Linked DNA regions of Homo sapiens: region 2 is linked to region 1. The links come from fine-mapping of genetic effects on gene expression. Tissue or cell type: monocytes after LPS. Region 1 holds a variant in brackets; the other region holds the start of a gene. All regions are shown on one strand. Distances are from middle to middle.

What was found. PIP is the estimated chance that this variant, and not a neighbour inherited with it, causes the effect. A credible set is the group of variants that fine-mapping cannot tell apart.
Region 2: OTUD1 starts here. The variant in region 1 is the best candidate, but not a certain one, in a credible set for the expression of OTUD1 in monocytes after LPS (Quach 2016, PIP 0.64).

Annotation. Positions count from the first base shown.
Region 1 is chr10:23,373,212-23,377,601 of GRCh38, reverse strand. No RefSeq gene overlaps it. Among named protein-coding and RNA genes, the nearest start is that of C10orf67, 31 kb to the right of the region's middle. The variant G/C (reference allele first, on the strand shown) is at 1,718.
Region 2 is chr10:23,437,040-23,441,429 of GRCh38, reverse strand. It overlaps OTUD1 (OTU deubiquitinase 1), which reads right to left and starts at 2,355. Exons shown (of 1, transcript NM_001145373.3): 1 at 1-2,355. The coding sequence starts at 1,972. The coding sequence ends at 527. RefSeq lists silencers at 1,137-1,506, 1,647-1,986, 2,037-2,626.

The sequences.
Region 1 (4,390 bases):
AGGAGTTTGAGAGCAGCCTGATCAACATGGTGAAACCTCATCTCTACTAAAAAAAAAAAAAAAAAAAAAAAAAAAAAAAAAAAAAAAAAAAAAAAATCCGGGCATGGTGGCACACGTCTGTAATCCCAGCTACTTGGTAGGCTGAGGCAGGATAATCGCTTGAACCCAGAAAGTGGAGGCTGCTGCAGTAAGCCAAGATCATGCCATTGCACTCTAGCCTGGGCAACAAGAGCAAAACTCTGCCTCAAAAAAAGAAAAAGAAAAAAGAGAACATTTGGGTTTCTAGTTTTTCAGTGTTATAAGCCATATGATGCAAACAGTCAGTTTGGTGTATATTTCTATAGAATATATTTTTCATCTCTATATATAGGTCCCCAGGTAATGTTTAATCCTTCTCTTAGGTTATATTTGATAGCTCAGAGTTCGTCAGTTTACAGACTTAGGTTGTATCATTTTTCTTTAATTGCATTATTTAACATTTGTCCTTAATTAAAGCTCCTGTGCCACTTTTCTGCCCACAAATGTGTCCTCGAATTTTTTCACCTTCATCGATTAGTTAATTCTCTACTTAGTGAGCTTACCGTATCCACAAACTTCAGAGCTCCTGGTATACCTAGTCTTCCAAATCAATTATAACACTATCAAAGTTGTTTAGCTCAAGAATTGAAGCTTTAGATTATTTTCCATGGCTGCTCTTTAAATGCTTTCCAAAACAAACCATTCTGTGGTGAAATCCTACAATAGTAAGTCATTAGAGCTGAGGGGATCTTTATAGATCTTATTAAAATCTTCTTACCAGAGGCCCTGGGGATTTGAACAATAGATACAGTCTCTCTACCCCTGTCTATACTTATTTACCGTCTCAAAAACTTTTAAATTAATAAGACTTGATTTCCCCTTTATCTTCCCTTCTGAAGGCCAAATGCCTCTTGCCCCTTTCAGAAATTGAGGAGTCATTTCTGTGTATGCTGCACATGTGACACTGTGTGTGTGCGTGTGTGGTGTATGTGGGTATGTGTCTGTGGGGGAAGGGTATGTGTTCATGTAACAAGTTGGATAAAGCATTGGTATTTCTTATATAGTTGGAAATTCCTATTTTATGCCATGAGCTTGTCATATGAGCAGGCCTCAAACTAAAAGGTCAAATAGACAAGTTCCTCTTCAGTTGTTTTGCTTCTGGGAAACCCAGCTCCATCCCTTGGGTCTGAGAGGAACTGAAAAAGCAAAGTCCCACAAAGCTGTGAGTGTTTCAATATTATCCCTATTGGAGCTGTGGCATTAAAGAAGATGTATCAGAAGGTATGACGTCATACTAACTGCTAACACTGCGGATTTTGACCATCAGCTAGAATAAGTCATATTTACAAGTTTCACATCAGTCATTTACTCAATAAGCATTTAGTGATTATAAAACTGCTTTTGCAAAATTATGACAATGTGTAGGGAAACACTCTCCCCAAACTGTTTTTCCTCTACTTTCACACCAGAATAATCACCAACACAGGGGAAGACTTCTGTGACCAAATGTCGGAGGGGCATTCCCCACACACCAAGCAGTGGACACCAGCTGGGTTTCCTCTAGTTCAGTTCTGACATTATCTACCTGGAGATAGCATCAGATCCCACAGGTGGGCTCAGTTCCCAAGACTGCCCTTCCACACACACAAGTCACAAGTCCAGGCCTCTGGAACTTCTGACAAACCAGCTTCAAGTTGGG[G/C]TTCCCACAACCCCCTCTTTGGGTTTAATTAATTGGAGGGAGCAGCTCACAGAACTCAGAGAAACACTTACCTACGTTTACTGGTTTATTATAAAGGATATTGCAAAGGACACAGATGAAGACGTGTGTAGGGAAAGGTAAGGGGGAACAGGCGCAGAGCTTCCATGCCCTCCCTGGGTGCTGGTCTCCAGAAACCTCTACTGTTCAGCTATCTGGAAGTTCAATGAACCCTGTCCTCTTGGATTTTTATGGAAGCTTCATGACATCAGCATTCCTTCCCTCAGGGCATAGCGTGGGATGTTCTCCTGGGAGGGTCTTAAACAATTGGAAAGGCAGGTGAGGGGGTTGGTGATGGTTGCGGGGGTGGACATGACACATTAGAGTGAAAGGAGGGCAGGAGAAGGTCAGAGACCTGCCTCTGAGGCCTAGCACACCCAACATTCTAACAAAAGGCTGTAACAGAGGCTACAGGAGTTATGTATGAGCCAGGAACCATGGGTGAAATCCAATATATATCATAATGTCACAGACAGTAAGAAATCTGACATAGTTGATTCCATCTTGCTTCTGGCTTCCCAGCTGTCCTTGGCCATTCCTGGGTAGGCCAAACTAACTTTGGGAGGAATCTAGTTTATGGTTTAATGTTAAAGCAAAGATGATAGCCCTTTCCAAAACTAAGCCATCTTTGTAAAACTAATGAAAGGCTACAATGTTAGGCTTATAGAGAGGGGCCTGGATTCCAATAAGATAGGCATGGTTTCTTTTATTTATTTACTTATTTATTTATTTTGAGATGGAGTCTCATTCTGTCACCCAGACTGGAGTGTAAATGGTGCGATCTCAGCTCACTGCACCCTCTGCCTCCAGGGTTCAAGTGATTATCCTGCCTCAGCCTCCCAAGTAGCTGGAACTACAGGCACATACCACCATGCCCAGCTAATTTTTGTATTTTTAGTAGAGACAGGGTTTCACCATGTTGGCCAGGCTGGTCTCGAACTCCTGACCTCAGGTGATCTGCCTGCCTTGGCCTCCCAAAGTGCTGGGATTACAGGCACAAACTACCAAAACTGGCCTCTGGATAGGTATAGTTTCTACAATCCCTTACTGCTCAGGGTTCATGTGGCTAGAGGTCACAAGATTGATGACTTTCCCAATTGCTCCTGTAGATAATGTCACTGTCATAGAAGCTAGAATTGGTTTTTTTGAGCTATCTTTCACACTGACTCCACCTGGGGTTGTGACTCATGACTCAATGGATCCTGTGACCTGACCCAGAAGTGGACTCAGCCCAACCAATCAGTATCACCCATTCCCCAGCCCCTTCCCACCAAATTGTCCATAAAAACCCTAACCCCCAAGCATTTGGGGAGACTCATTTGGGTGATAGCTCCAGTTCTCCTGCATGGGTTGGCCTCACATCAATTAAACTCTTTCTCTACTGCAGTGCTGTGGGCTCAATGGATTGATTTTGTCTGTGCAGCAGGCAGGAAGAATCTGTTGGGTGATCACAATTACCCTGCATGGCTAAGCACTGTACTAACTGTTAGGGATACCCAGAAGTCCTTGCTTTCAAAGAGTGTGTGATTTAGCAGCAGAAGGAGATATAATTGTAACACATTATAATAGGGTAAAACTGTAACATAATGGGTCAGTTGCCCAATGTGCAAAGCAATGTGCTGAGACACCAGGTTGCATCAGAGAAAGAGGTTTCATTGTAGGGCTGCCAAATGAGGAGACAAGAGGAAACCTCAAACCAATCTCCCCAAGGAGTTTGGGGATAGGGTTTTCAAGGGGTTTGGAGTGGGCTGAAGTGTGGAGATTGTTGATTGGTTCTAGAGTACAGGGTAAAGTTGCGGGACAGGGAGATGAAGAAGCTGTATTCTCATGCTTATTTGGTTCCTCTGTTGGGGGTCTTTAAACTGGTTGGTGTAAGTGATTCTGTCAGAATTCAGGATCTGCTTAAGCAATTTCTTTTTCTTTCTTTCTTTCTTTCTTTCTTTCTTTCTTTCTTTCTTTCTTTCTTTCTTTTTTCTTTCTTCTTTCTTTCTCTCTCTCTCTCTTCCTTCCTTCCTTCTTCTTTCTCTTTCCCTCTCTCTCCTTTCTCTCTTTCTTTCTTTCTTTCTTTCTGTCTGTCTCCCAGGCTGAAGTGCAGTGGTGCACTCTGCTCACTGCAGCCTTGACCTCCCAGGATTAAGTGATCCTCCCACCTCAGCCTCCTGAGTGGCTGAGACTACTAGGCATGCATCACCATGCCTGGCTATGCTTAAACAATTCTTAAACAAAAGCCTTATGATTCTAACATAAGAGATCCTATCTAACATCAGAAATTCTATCTATGGGAACATGGAGATGCAAATGGTCAGTATCTAGTGTTATGTGACCAGGAAGAAAGTGGGTCAAAGTGCAGCCTGATTAATGCTTAATTATAGTTATATTTCTGTCCAGAATTCTTGTTAACCTGTGAGGATGGCTTCAAGAGTAGGCATAAAGACATGCCCAAACTATGAGATAGCAGGAGAAGAGGAGTGGCTGGGCATGGTGGCTCATGCCTGTAATCCCTACACTTTGTGAGGCCAAGGTGGATGAATCACTTGAGGTCAGGAATTCGAGACCAGCCTGGCCAATATGGTGAAATCCCATCTCTACTAAAAATACAAAAATTAGCTGGGTATG
Region 2 (4,390 bases), 64 kb before region 1:
TGCATCAATATCCATTTGAAATAATTATCTAAGAATTGTGAAATTCAAATTTCAACAACATAAAATAACTACCAAATCACAAACTCTGTTCAAAATAATACATTTCATATAAAGCACTTCTCTGGATTTACGCCTGAAAGCTGTTTGTCAAAATGGAACACGTCATAGATGAAGGTACACCAGTTTTTAAAAATGTTGTGCAAAAATACATTTTTATAGAAAATAGACTACCAGGAATGAACAAATTTACACTGTGAGAAATCAGCTTGCAAATTAAGTAATGCTCACTTTATACAGCAAATTATAAATAGCAGTAAAATCACCCAAAGCTATCATGAAACATCATTTAGGTGCCCAGCAACCTCCAGCTCTGAGAAAACATTCAAAAAGATGATTAAGGCATTACACCTACAGTAAAATCTACTAGCAAGTTTGAAAGTGCTATTACCCTGATTAAAGTTCATGTGATTCTCCAAACACAAGTTATATATGCAATTATTCCCAGGGTGTAAGGTTTTGAGACATTTCAAGAGCATGCATTTTGTTCAATATACATTTTAGACAAGGATATGGCCATAGATTTGGCAAGTTCTTCGTCGCGTTTCCTTTGCACTTGAGTTTGTTTGCACCAGTTGTCGTACTCTGGGTTAGGATAGGAGTGATCAAATACAGCATCATAGTGTCCGTTACTGAGCCAACTGAGCCAAATACTAGGCCTCAGGGAATCCTCTGGGCCCAAATAATGAATCATGGTAGACACCGTGGGACTCTCCAGCCTCCCTCCAGTAGTTAAATGGATATTCACATTCAGCATCTGCCCCATGGCCAGCAACTCCGGGTACCCGGCCCATGCCCCGTCTTGGGCAGCAGCGATGATAAACTCCCCCACGTCGCCCTCAATCAGGGGGCTGAAGTGGTCGAGATGGTCGGCGATGTAGTGCACCGTCTGCTCCCTCAACTCCCGGTGCAGGCTCTGGTCCCCATACACCGTCTTGCTGACAGCTCGGTAGAGGCAGTTGCCGTCTGGAATGATGTGGAATCGGTACTTATTCCTCTGCCGCAGATACTTGTCCTGCTTCTCCACCTCGGCCAGGTATAGGGCCAGCTTCTCGTCTCTGGGATCCGACCTGGAGACGATCACCGGCTCCGCCGCACTACTCGGGGCGGCCTCGATGCTCCCGGCGGGGGGTGCCTCGGCCTCTGGGTCGGGCCTCCGCGCCGCGTCCCCACCGGGCGCGTCGCAGCGATCGCCGCCCCTCTCCCAGCCCCTGGGGCCCCTCTCCGCCAAGTGCTCTTCGCCCCACGGACCGGGGCCGGGATCGGGGCTCCCCGGGGTCGCCGCGGGGCCTCGGTGCTTGGCGGCGGCCAGGGCCTGGCGGTGCTCGCTCAGTCGGAAGTTCCGATCGGGCCCCTCCCGTGTCGCGTCCAAGCCCGCGGGCTCGGGGCAGTCGGGCCGCAGCAGCTCCTCCAGGAGCCAGGCCGAGGAGCCCCGCCGCGGCGGGACCGGGGCTGCGGGCGCCGGGGCGAGCAGGAGGCAGCGGCCGCGCGGGGCAGCGGCGGAGCCCGCGGCGCCGGGAACGGGATCGGGCCCGTGCAGCAGGAGCCTGTCGGCGCCCAGGGCCCGCACGGTGATCTGTGCGGTGGACGTGTAGTGCGGCGGCAGCGGCGGCTTGCAGGACGCGCCGGGCGGGCCGGCGGCGGCGGAGGCGGGCGCGGCGGCCCCGGACACCACCTCGAAGCAGGAGGAGAAGGCGGGCATCTTGGCGGCGGGGACAGCGGCGGCTTCCCGGTGCTCGGCGGCCGCGGCGGGCTGGCACTCACCGGTCTCGGGCTCGGGCGCGGCGCCGGCGGCTCCCGGGGGCTGCAGCGAGACCTTGAAGGGGGTAGCGGCGGCGGGTGGCGCGGGGGCGGCGGCCGTGGGACCCGGGGCCCCGGCGGGGTAGTGGGTGCAGACGCTGCTGTAGAGCTGCATGTCCCTGCCCGCCGCTCGGCCCCTTATAGGCGCGGCGAGCCCCGGAGCGGGGGACACACCCTCCGGGCCCGGGGGAGGGGGCCGGCGGAGCGCGGTGACCCAACGGCCCCAGAATAGAGATGAGCGAAAGGCAGCCGGCCGCCGCGAGTCAGCAGCCGCGAATAGCGCCCGGGTCCCGGCCAAATTCCTGCTGCGCCACAGCGCAGGGGGGCGGGGACGGGACGCGAGCTCGACCCCTGCCGGTGCGCTCGGCCCGCAGACCCGGGGCGCCGCGCCCGCTGCAGCTGCTTCGGCCCGCGGCGGCCGCTGGGGACTCACGGAGGAAGCCGCCCGCCCCGTTGGAGCGCGTCCCGCCGGCGAGGAGGAGCGCGGTGCGCGCGGAGGCCCGGGAGGCGGGGCCGCGGTTGTTTACCTCAGGCCTCGCGGCCGCGTCACGTGGACTCACTGGAATGCGCGGCTCTTTGCGGCGCCCGATTCAGTCGCGCCTGCTCGCCCCGCCCACTCCGGCCCGCGCCCCGCCCCCTACCGCGCTCCGCCGACGTCACGGGCGTGGCCCTCGGCGCGCGAGCGCGCGCGGGCGGGGCGAGGCCGGGGGCGCGGAGGCCTGAGCAGTCCTGGGATCCTGGCTGGGCCTCCCGCCCACGTGACTCCCACGGACCGCTTCCCCCACCTGGGCACTGGGCACTGGTTTCTGCGCTGCGCCACTCTCCTCAGCGGCTGCAGTGGATGCTGCGGGATGGGAGCTGCTTGGGGCGAGTTAGCATGCTCGGAAAGCTTGCGTGGCAGGAAAGCTTCCGGCATGGGTGTGGAGAACGGAATGCTGCCTTAAAGTCTGTTTGGCCTCTGCTGGTCATGGGCTACCATCCCTGCTTGCATTCACTACTGCCTCTTTTCTTTTATCTTTTTAGAGATGGGGGTCTTACCTGTCTCCGAAGCTAGAGTGTAGTGGCGCAGTCCATAGCTCACTGCAGCCTTGACTTCCCGGGCTCAAGCGATCCTCCCGCCTCAACCTCCAGAGTAACTGGAAACCACAGGTGTGCACCACCGCACCCGGCTAATTTTCTTTCTTTCTTTCTTTCTTTTTTTTTAAGGCGAGGGTCTCACCACAGTTGCCCAGTCTGGTGTCGAACTACTGGCCTCAAGCTGTTTCCCGCCTCGACCTCCTAAAGTGTTGGGATTATGGGTCCTAGCCACCACTCGTGGAACCGCCGCGTCTTTTCCTTTTTTTTTTTTTCTTTTTCTTTTTGAGGCAAGGTCTTGCTCTGCCTTCCAGGCTGAGTGCAGTGGCGCCATCATGTCCCACTGCGACCTCGACCTCCAGGGCCCAAGTGATCCCCCTTCCTCAGCCTTGCCTTGGGCAGGGATTACAGGTGCCCAGCTAGTTTTACCACTGTGTCTTTTCTATGCATTTCCTTGGACTCACCGGTAAGGGTGAGTCCGCTAGTGGATTCTCTTGCCTTGCTAAGACAAAACCAACTTTGCACCTCTGACCTATGCCATTTGGCAAATATCTGGCTTGGGGGAAAGCAAGGAAGCCTTTTAGGCTTTTATAAACAAGCTTTCTCAGAATACCAAATGCAGTATCACTTAGGGCCCTTTGAGAATAGGTGTGAATGCTAGCCAGAGGTCAAAAGCGGTGGAGAAAGTCGTGACCTGCATTCCGGGGCAAGATAGACTATAGAAAATACTTCTACCGAGTCTTTTTGTAATACCCGCCTTTGTAAGGGAAAGCCAGAGGTAGTGGGAGACTTTTGCTATATTCTGAGCTGTGATCAAATGCTAAATTAACAGGGCCTAAACATTCGAATTGAACCCAGAGGTTGTCCTAACATTTTAGAGATAGGGAGACTGAACCTGTAGGTGATGTAGGCTGTACTCCGGTCCCCACCTTTCCGGTGGAATGTGAATTCCAGGAATTGAGAGACTTGGGTCTTGCTCTTATATTTCCATCCCCTAACACCGTGCTTGGCACATAATTGGACCTAATTAATATTTACTAAGTGAATGAGTAGATGGAAAGCGAGTTTCCAAGGTTTGTCAGACAGTGGTGAAGCCAAGATTACTATCCAGGTCCCTTGACCCTAGCCAGGGCTTTTAATTATCTTTGGGCAGTATGACTGGCAGGGTCCCAGCTCAGGTCACTCCAGCCGCTTATGTAAATTAACTCAGAAGAAGGTAAATGACTGTCTAACTTTTCAAATTCTGGTAACTACCCCATTGGGAGCTTGAAGCTCTCATGGCTAATTAGAAAAAGGAAATTACCATCCTTGGATTTCATCACTGATTTGTTGAGCATCTGTTGCTCTGTGCATGAAGCACTTCACGCTTAACTCTTTCATTAGCTGGTGTTCTGAAACAGAAGACAAGACTGTTAACAAGGCCGTCACCAAATAATATTTACCATACCCACCACGTGCC